2 separate regions of the Homo sapiens genome follow, and region 1 is linked to region 2. A link means that fine-mapping ties the variant in region 2 to the plasma level of a protein whose gene starts in the linked region. Region 2 holds a variant in brackets. A gene starts in the other region. All regions are shown on their reverse strands.

The links. A credible set is the group of variants that fine-mapping cannot tell apart. PIP is the posterior inclusion probability: the model's chance that the variant is causal. The UK Biobank Pharma Proteomics Project read protein levels with antibody pairs (Olink). The fine-mapping took linkage between variants from a reference panel, not from the people measured, so its PIPs are less certain.
Region 1: it holds the start of SELE, and the variant in region 2 is the best candidate, but not a certain one, in a credible set for the plasma level of the SELE protein (UK Biobank, PIP 0.71).

What each region holds. Positions count from the first base shown.
Region 1 is chr1:169,733,834-169,738,223 of GRCh38, reverse strand. SELE (selectin E) reads left to right here and starts at 4,145. Exons shown (of 14, transcript NM_000450.2): 1 at 4,145-4,253.
Region 2 is chr4:102,274,761-102,279,160 of GRCh38, reverse strand. All of the region lies in intron 6 of SLC39A8 (solute carrier family 39 member 8), which reads left to right. Among named protein-coding and RNA genes, the nearest start is that of SLC39A8, 69 kb to the left of the region's middle. The variant T/C (reference allele first, on the strand shown) is at 2,236.

The DNA.
Region 1 (4,390 bases), not on the chromosome of region 2:
CCCAGGGCCTCTCCACGAGAGGAAAGCTGGGTCTGTCTATGGCCCCTTCAGCAGCCCAGGTAGCCAGAGGGGAGCCCATCAGCTCCCAGTATCCATGTACCTGATTTGCAGTGACAACCTCGGGGGCAGGGACACAGAAAATACTGTGGGAGAATGCAGGTAATTGTAAGGATGAATGGATTTTGAATAACATACCTCTGGTTAAAACAAGTACATATATTATATACATATAAATTATATACATACATGTACATATTGTAAACCAAAAAGTAACTGAAGCATATCTCAACAGATTAGAGGTTTATTTTGTCCCAGGTAAAAGAAACACAAATCACTGTAGGATCTGTGACCTGCGCTTTTTCCAAAGAGAGTTTTGGGAACTTCCATCTTTAGAGGGGAAAGAGCAAGCAGGAGGGGAAGAAAATAAACGAAAGATGGGTTGGCAATGAGACAAGTGTTTACATTGTGGCAAGGCTCTGTAACACTCAGTGAGTCTACACTTTACATGTAAAAAGAAGGGACTAGAGGGAAATTATGCATGGATCTCATGCTCAGTACATCTACATTTTATATAAGATAAAGTAAGCATGTGAAATTACAGGTATTTGGGAACAAAAGGAAGGCAGTTTTTGCATGACTCATTTCCCAAGCTTAACTTTCCCTTTGGCATAGTGAATTTGAGGTCTCAAGATTCTATTCTTCTTTCACAGTATTTTACATATATTTATATATAATATATATAAAAATATCTATATTTATATATAAAATATAAAAATATCTATATTTATATATAAAATATAAAAATATCTATATATATAAAATATATAAATATATATAAATAATATATATATTCCACATATATAATATATTGTAATTATATATATATACTCTACATATATTATATATTATATATAGTCTACATTTAAGTTACTGTTACTCACCTATCTCTTCCACTCCTCATTTCTCTTATCCTTCGAATATTGGGATCTCTCCCTGAAGCTTTCTCAATTTAGAAATAATCAGTTTAGAATTTAGAATAATCAGTTTGCCCTTTGACCTTAGAGAAAATTTGCTTTTGAATCAGGAACTTCTGGGAACTGTGGCTTAGGGATCAACTTTACCTAGGCATGGCTCCACCTGCCTTGCTTGTTTTTTCCTTTGTCCACTTTCTCCCTGCCTATGCACCGGGGATCCAGGGTCTGTTCTCACTGCATCCTCTCCCTACTGCTCACTGTCCCTGGGGTCCCTTCCAGCCCCCATGTCTCAGAACCCAGGACACAGTTATCTCAGTGGAGAGCTGTGATGGTCAAGGATGTCTCAGGAAGAAGAGGGCAAGAAGAGTACAGGAAACTTGGGTAGAACAAGGAATCTCGGGGCATAACAACAAAAGAAATCATGGTTTGGAGTAGCAGGTAAGGGAGTGGGCTCTGGATATCAACTGCCTGGTTTCAACCCTTAGCTCTGTGCTTTTGAATGAGATAAAATCCCCAGATTCTCAATTTCCTCATCTGTAAAATGGGGATAATAGGAGTACCTATTTCATAGGCTGTTGTACGGATTGAATAATCAATAGGTGAACATACAAAATGCTCAGAATATGGCCTGGCACATAGTAAGCACTCAATAAATGTTAGAGATTATAATTGGGGGTCCAGGACATATATATGTAAGTAAAATAGAAACTTCATCACCACTGGGGCTATTTTTAGATATCTTTGAACTAATTTTAAAAAGGGGAAGAGATAAACTATAAACTTAGTTATGAAAAATTCGCAATAATAAAGTTAGTTATCTAGGGATGTTAACGACTAATTTCTATTAGCAATATAATTATTAGGTACTTTATTGATATCGAAGATAAATTGTTTTTTAAGATTTGGCTACTCTATACATTTGACCATGCTTTTTAAAAATAGCAGATTATGTATTCATACTTTATTAAAAATAAAATACATACAGATAATGTATTAACCCAACTTGACATTCTGCCCTAAAATCTAAATAAACACTATATGAGTGATTACTCTTCTGAATTTATTGAAGCAACAACCACATTGAGCTAAGTAAAGTGGGATAAAGAATTGGAATAATGTCAGTATCTGGATCATGTAAGAGAGTGGTAAGGTGGAGGGAATAAATTCTATGCTTTTTGATAGGGGTTGAATTAAATTCGTTAATTAAGTTATTTTTTTCTAATCAGTTGTCTTTTTTGGAATTTTTCTTCTCTTTTCTTGTTTTTTTTTTGGGTCTTGACATCTTTATGAACACAGAAAGACCAGTGCTAACAAGTAAAGAGAAAAACGAGGCTTTTACCACTACTCGTTCAGGTCTGCTGACAGTACATTTTTAGATAGACCTCCTATTTTGAAAGGCTGTAGATATAGAATATTAGCTTGACTTGAGCTCTGAAAACCTACAGAATATGGAAATTAAAATGATCCCCATTTACTGTTACCATCATTTAGATAGGGTAAGATGCAGAGATGGGGAATGTATACAATCACCCAGAAGAAATGTCAAAATGAAGAGCAGGAATATAGGATACCACATACATCTCCTTCTGTTGCATTTGGAAACAAATTTCTTTTCTTTTCTTTTTCTTTTTTTCTTTTTTTTTGAGATGGAGTCTTGCTCTGTCGCCCAGGCTGGAGTGCAATGGTGTGATTTCAGCTCACTGCAACCTCTGCCTCCTGGGTTCAAGCGATTCTCTTGCATCAGGCTCCCCAGTAGCTGGGATTACAGGCATGCGCCACTACACCCCGGCTAATTTTTGTATTTTTAGTAGAGACAGGGTTTCACCATATTGGCCACGCTGGTCTGGAACTCCTGACCTCAGGTGATCCACCCACCTCAGCCTCCCAAAGTGCTGGGATTACAGGCATGAGCCATCATGCCTGGCCTAGAGACAAGTTTCTTTAAACTGTATTCTTGTTACTATAAAGGTGAAAAAAAGGGAAATTGAAAAAAACTTTAAAATCCTGAAAATAATAATGAAGGATATAAAAATTATCCCAAATCCTGCCATCCAGAGTTAGTCACTGTTAACATTGTGGAAGAATTTTTATTCTTTGCACATTAACATTTCAAAAATTTTAAACAAAATTTTGACCAATTAAATATATATATATAGTTTTCCGTTTTATTTTTTTTCTTTTCTTTTCTTTTTTTTTTTTTTTTTTTAAGACAGAGTTTCACTCGTTTCCCAGGCTGGAGTGCACTGGCGTGATCTTGGCTCACTGCAACCTCCACTTCCCGGGTTCAAGCGATTCTCCTGCCTCAGCCTCCCGAGTAGCTGGGATTACAGGCATGCGCCACCATGCCCAGCTAATTTTGTATTTTTAGTAGAGATGGCGTTTCTCCATGTTGGTCAGGCTGGTCTTGAACTCCCGGCCTCAGGTGATCCGCCTGCCTCGGCCTCCCAAAGTGGTGGGATTACAGGCGTGAGCCACTGTGCCTGGCCTCCTTTTTATTTTTTTCACTGAACAAACCATGAAACTTTCCCAGATGTAAATATCTATTTCCCATTTTTCTTTTTTTAAAATAAGGCATTATTTTAACCATTTGAGTGTTAGATATTATTTTTAGATAATATTTTAATTTAGGCATAACTGCCGTGCAAAATCTGAAGATTAATATCTACCTTGTGAGTCATTCCTCTGTGAGACAGTGCATGTTAAATATGTTGAATTGGCAGGTGAAAAAGGAAGAAAAAATGAGTAGTGATTGGTTATCCACAGCTATGAATGAGAAATTGAAGGTAGTAGACTATGGATGACAAACCTATTCTTGGTTTCCTTCTGTTTCTGAAATTCTAATTACTACCACAACTACATGAGAGACACTACTAACAAGCAAAGTTTTACAACTTTTTAAAGACATAGACTTTATGTTATTATAATTAAAAATCATGCATTTTTGTCATATTAATAAAATTGCATATACGATATAAAGGCATGGACAAAGGTGAAGTAGCTTCAAGAGACAGAGTTTCTGACATCATTGTAATTTTAAGCATCGTGGATATTCCCGGGAAAGTTTTTGGATGCCATTGGGGATTTCCTCTTTACTGGATGTGGACAATATCCTCCTATTATTCACAGGAAGCAATCCCTCCTATAAAAGGGCCTCAGCCGAAGTAGTGTTCAGCTGTTCTTGGCTGACTTCACATCAAAACTCCTATACTGACCTGAGACAGAGGCAGCAGTGATACCCACCTGAGAGATCCTGTGTTTGAACAACTGCTTCCCAAAACGGTAAGTGCAGAACGCTTTATAAGGGCAGCCTCGGGCCATGAAACACAGATATGCAAAAGGCCTTCTAATAAAAACCACATCTGTACAAGCTCTTATTGTATTGTAGCTAAAACCTGTCTTTTCTCTTTGACCTAAAT
Region 2 (4,400 bases):
CTTTTTTTTTTTATTATTATACTTAAAGTTTTGGGATACATGTGCAGAACGTGTAGGTTTGTTATATAGGTATACATGTGCCATGGTGATTTGCTGCATCCATCAACCCGTCATCTACATTAGTTATTTCTCCTAATGCTATCCCTCCCCTTGCCCCCCACCCCACTAACAGGCCCCAGTGTGTGATGTTTCCCTCCCTGTGCCCGTAAGTTCTCATTGTTCAACTCTCACTTATGAGTGAGAACATGCGGTGTTTGGTTTTCTGTTCCTGTGTTAATTTGCTGAGAATGAGAATGATGGTTTCCAGCTTGATCCATGTCCCTGCAAAGGACATGAACTCATCCTTTTTTATGTCTGCATAGTATTCCGTGGTGTATACATGCCACATTTTCTTTATCCATTCTATCATTGATGGGCATTTGGGTTGGTTCCAAGTCTTTGCTATTGTAAATAGTGCAGCAGTAAACATACATGTGCATGTGTCTTTATAGTAGAATGATTTATAATCCTTTGGGTATATACCCAGTAATAGGATTGCTGGGTCAAATGGCATTTCTGGTTCTAGATCCTTGAGGAATTGCTACACTGTCTTCCACAATGGTTGAACTAATTTATACTCCCACCAACAGTGTAAAAGTGTTCCTATTTCTCCACAGCCTTGCCAGCATCTGTTGTTTCCTGACATTTTAGTGATCGACATTCTAACTGGCATGAGATGGTATCTTATTGTGGTTTTGATTTGCATTTCGCTAATGATCAGTGGATGATGAGCCTTTTTTCATATGTTTGTTGGCCACATAAATGTCTTCTTTTGAAAAGTGTCTGTTCATATTCTTCACCCACTTTTTGATGGGGCTGTTTGTTTTTTTCTTCTAAATTTGTTTAAGTTCCTTGTAGATTCTGGATATTAGCCCTTTGTCAGATGGATAAGATTGCAAAAATTTTCTCCCATTCTGTAGGTTGCCTGTTCACTCTGATGATAGTTTCTTTTGCTGTGCAGAAGCTCTTTAGTTTAATTAGATCCCATTTGTCAATTTTGGCTTTTGTTGCCATTGCTTTTTGTGTTTTAGTCATGAAGTCTTTGCCCATACCTATGTCTTGAATGGTATTGCCTAGGTTTCCTTCTAGGGTTTCTAGGGTTTTAGGTCTTACATTTAAATCTTCAATCCATCTTGAGTTAATTTTTGTATAAAGTGTAAGGAAGGGGTCCAGTTTCAGTTTTCTGCATATGGCTAGCCAGTTTTCCCAAAACCATTTATTAAATAGGGAATTCTTTCCCCATTGCTTGTTTTTGTCAGGTTTGTTGAAGATCAGATGGCTGTAGATGTGTGGTGTTATTTCTGAGGCCTCTGTTCTATTCTATTGGTCTATATATCTGTTTTGGTACCAGTACTATGCTGTCTTGGTTACTGTAGCCTTGTAGGATAGTTTGAAGTCAGGTAGCGTGATGCCTCCAACTTTGTTCTTTTTGCTTAGGCTTGTCTTGGCTATACAGGCTCTTTTTTGGTTCTATAAGAAATTTAAAGTAGTTTTTTTCTAATTCTTTGAAGAAAGTCAATGGTAGCTTGTTGGAAATAGCATTGAATCTATAAATTTGGACTGTATGGCCATTTTCATGATATTGATTCTTTTTATCCATGAGCATGGAATGTTTTTCATTTGTTTGCGTCCTCTCTTATTTTGTTGAGCAGTGGTTTGTAGTTCTCCTTGAAGAGGTCCTTCACATCCCTTGTAAGTTGTATTCCTAGGTATTTTATTCTCTTGGTAGCAATTGTGAATGAAAGTTTGCTCATGATTTGGCTTTCTGTTTGTCTGTTATTGGTGTATAGGAATGCTTGTGATTTTAGCACATTGATTTTATATCTTGAGACTTTGCTGAAGTTGCTTAGCAGCTTAAGGAGTTTTGGGGCTGAGATGATGGGGTTTTCTAAATATATAATCATGTCATCTGCAAACAGAGATAATTTGACTACCTCTTTTCCTATTTGAATACCCCTTATTTCTTTCTCTTGCCTGATTGCCCTGGCCAGAACTTCCAATACTATGTTGAATAGGAGTGGTGAGAGAGGGCATCCTTGTCTTGTGCTGGTTTTCAAAGGGACTGCTTCCAGCTTTTGCCCATTGACTATGAAGTGGGCTGTGGGTTTGTCATAAATAGTTCTTATTATTGTGAGATATGTTCCATCAATACCTAGTTTATTGAGTGTTTTTAGCTTGAAAGGGTGTTGAATTTTA[T/C]TGAAGGCCTTTTCTGCATCTATCGAGATAATCATGTGTTTTTTGTCATTGGTTCTGTTTATGTGACGGATTGTGTTTATTGGTTTGCATATGTTGAACCATCCTCGCATCCCAGGGATGAAGCCTACTTGATCATATTGGATAAGCTTTTTAATGTGCTACTGGATTTGGTATACCAGTATTTTATTGAGGATTTTTGCGTCGATGTTCATCAGGGATATTAGGCTGAAATTTTCTTTTTTTGTTTTGTCTCTACCTGGTTTTGGTATCAGGATGATGCTGGCCTCATAAAATGAGCTAGGGAAGAGTCCCTCTTTTTCTATTGTTTGGAATAGTTTCAGAAGGAATGGTACCAGCTTCTCTTTGTACATCTGGTAGAATTCGACTGTGAATCTCTCTAGTCCTGGGCTTTTTTTGGTTGTTAAGACTATTAATTACTGCTTCAATTTCAGGACTTGTTATTGGCCTTTTCAGGGTTTCGACTTCTTCCTGGTTTAGTCTTGGGATGCTGTATGTGTCCAGGAATTTATCCATTTCTTGTAGATTTTCTAGTTTATTTGCGTAGAAGTGTTTACAGTATTCTCTGATGGTAGTTTGTATTCCTGTGGATCAGTGGTGATCTCCCCTTTACCATTTTTTTTATTGTGTCTATTTGATTCTTCTCTCTTTTCTTCTTTATTAGTCTGGCTAGCAGTCTACCTATTTTGCTAATCTTTTCAAAAAACCAGCTCCTGGATTCATTGATTTTTTGAAGGGTTTTTCATGTCTCAATCTCCTTCAGTTCTGCTCTGATCTTAGTTATTTCTTGCCTTCAGCTGGCTTTTGAATTTGTTTGCTCTTGCTTCTCTAGTTCTTTTAATTGTGATATTAGGGTGTCAATTTTAGATCTTTTCCACTTTCTCCTGTGGATATTTAATGCTATAAGTTTCCCTCTAAACACTGCTTTAGCTGTGTCCTGGAGATTCTGGTACGTTGTGTCTTTGTTCTCATTGGTTTCAAAGAACTTATTTCTTTCTGCCTTAATTTCGTTATTTACCCAGTAGTCATTCAGGAGCAGTTTGTTCCGTTTCCATGTAGTTGTGTGGTTTTGAGTGAGTTTCTTAATCCTGAGTTCTAATTTGATTGCACTATGGTCTGAGAGACTGTTTGTTATGATTTCCGTTCTTCTGCATTTGCTGAGGAGTGTTTTACTTCCAATTATGTGGTCTCTTTTAGAATAAGTGCTATGTGGTGCTGAGAAGAATGTATATTCTGTTGATTTGGGGGTGGAGAGTTCTGTAGATATCTATTAGGTCAGCTTGGTCCAGAGCTGAGTTCAAGTCCTGAATATCCTTGTTAATTTTCTGTCTCATTGATTTCTCTAATATTGAAAGTGGGGTGGTAAATTCTCCCACTATTATTGTGTGGGAGTCTAAGTCTCTTTATAGGTCTCTAAGAACTTGCTTTATGAATCTGGGTGCTCCTGTATTGGGTGCATATATATATTTAGTATAGTTAGCTCTTCTTGCTGCATTGATCCCTTTACCATTATGTAATGCCCTTTTTTGTCTTTTTTGATCTTTGTTGGTTTAAAGTCTGTTTTATCAGAGACTAGGATTGCAACCCCTGCTTTTTTGTTTTGTTTTTGTTTTTGTTTTTGTTTTTTTTGCTTTCCATTTGCTTGGTAAATATTCCTCCATCCCTTTATTTTGAGCCTATGTGTGTCTTCTTACATGAGATGGGTCTCCTGAATACAGCACACTGATCGGTCTTGACTCTTTATCCAATTTGCCAGTCTGTGCCTTTTAATTGGGCCATTTAACCCATTTACATATAAGCTTAATATTGTTATGTGTGAATTTGATCCTGTCATTATGATGCTAGCTGTTTATTTTGCCCATTAGTTGATGCAGTTTCTTCATAGTGTCAATGGTCTTTACATTTTGCTTTGTTTTTGCCATGGCTGGTACTGGTTGTTCCTTTCCATATTTACTGCTTCCTTCAGAGCTCTTGTAAGGCAGGCCTGGTGGTGACAAAATCCCTCAGCATTTGATTGTCTGTAAAGGATTTTGTTTCTCCTTCATTTATCAAGCTTAGTTTGGCTGAATATGAAATTCTGGGTTGAAAATTCTTTTATTTAAGAATGTTGAATATTGGCCCATACTCTCTTCTGGCTTGTAGAGTTT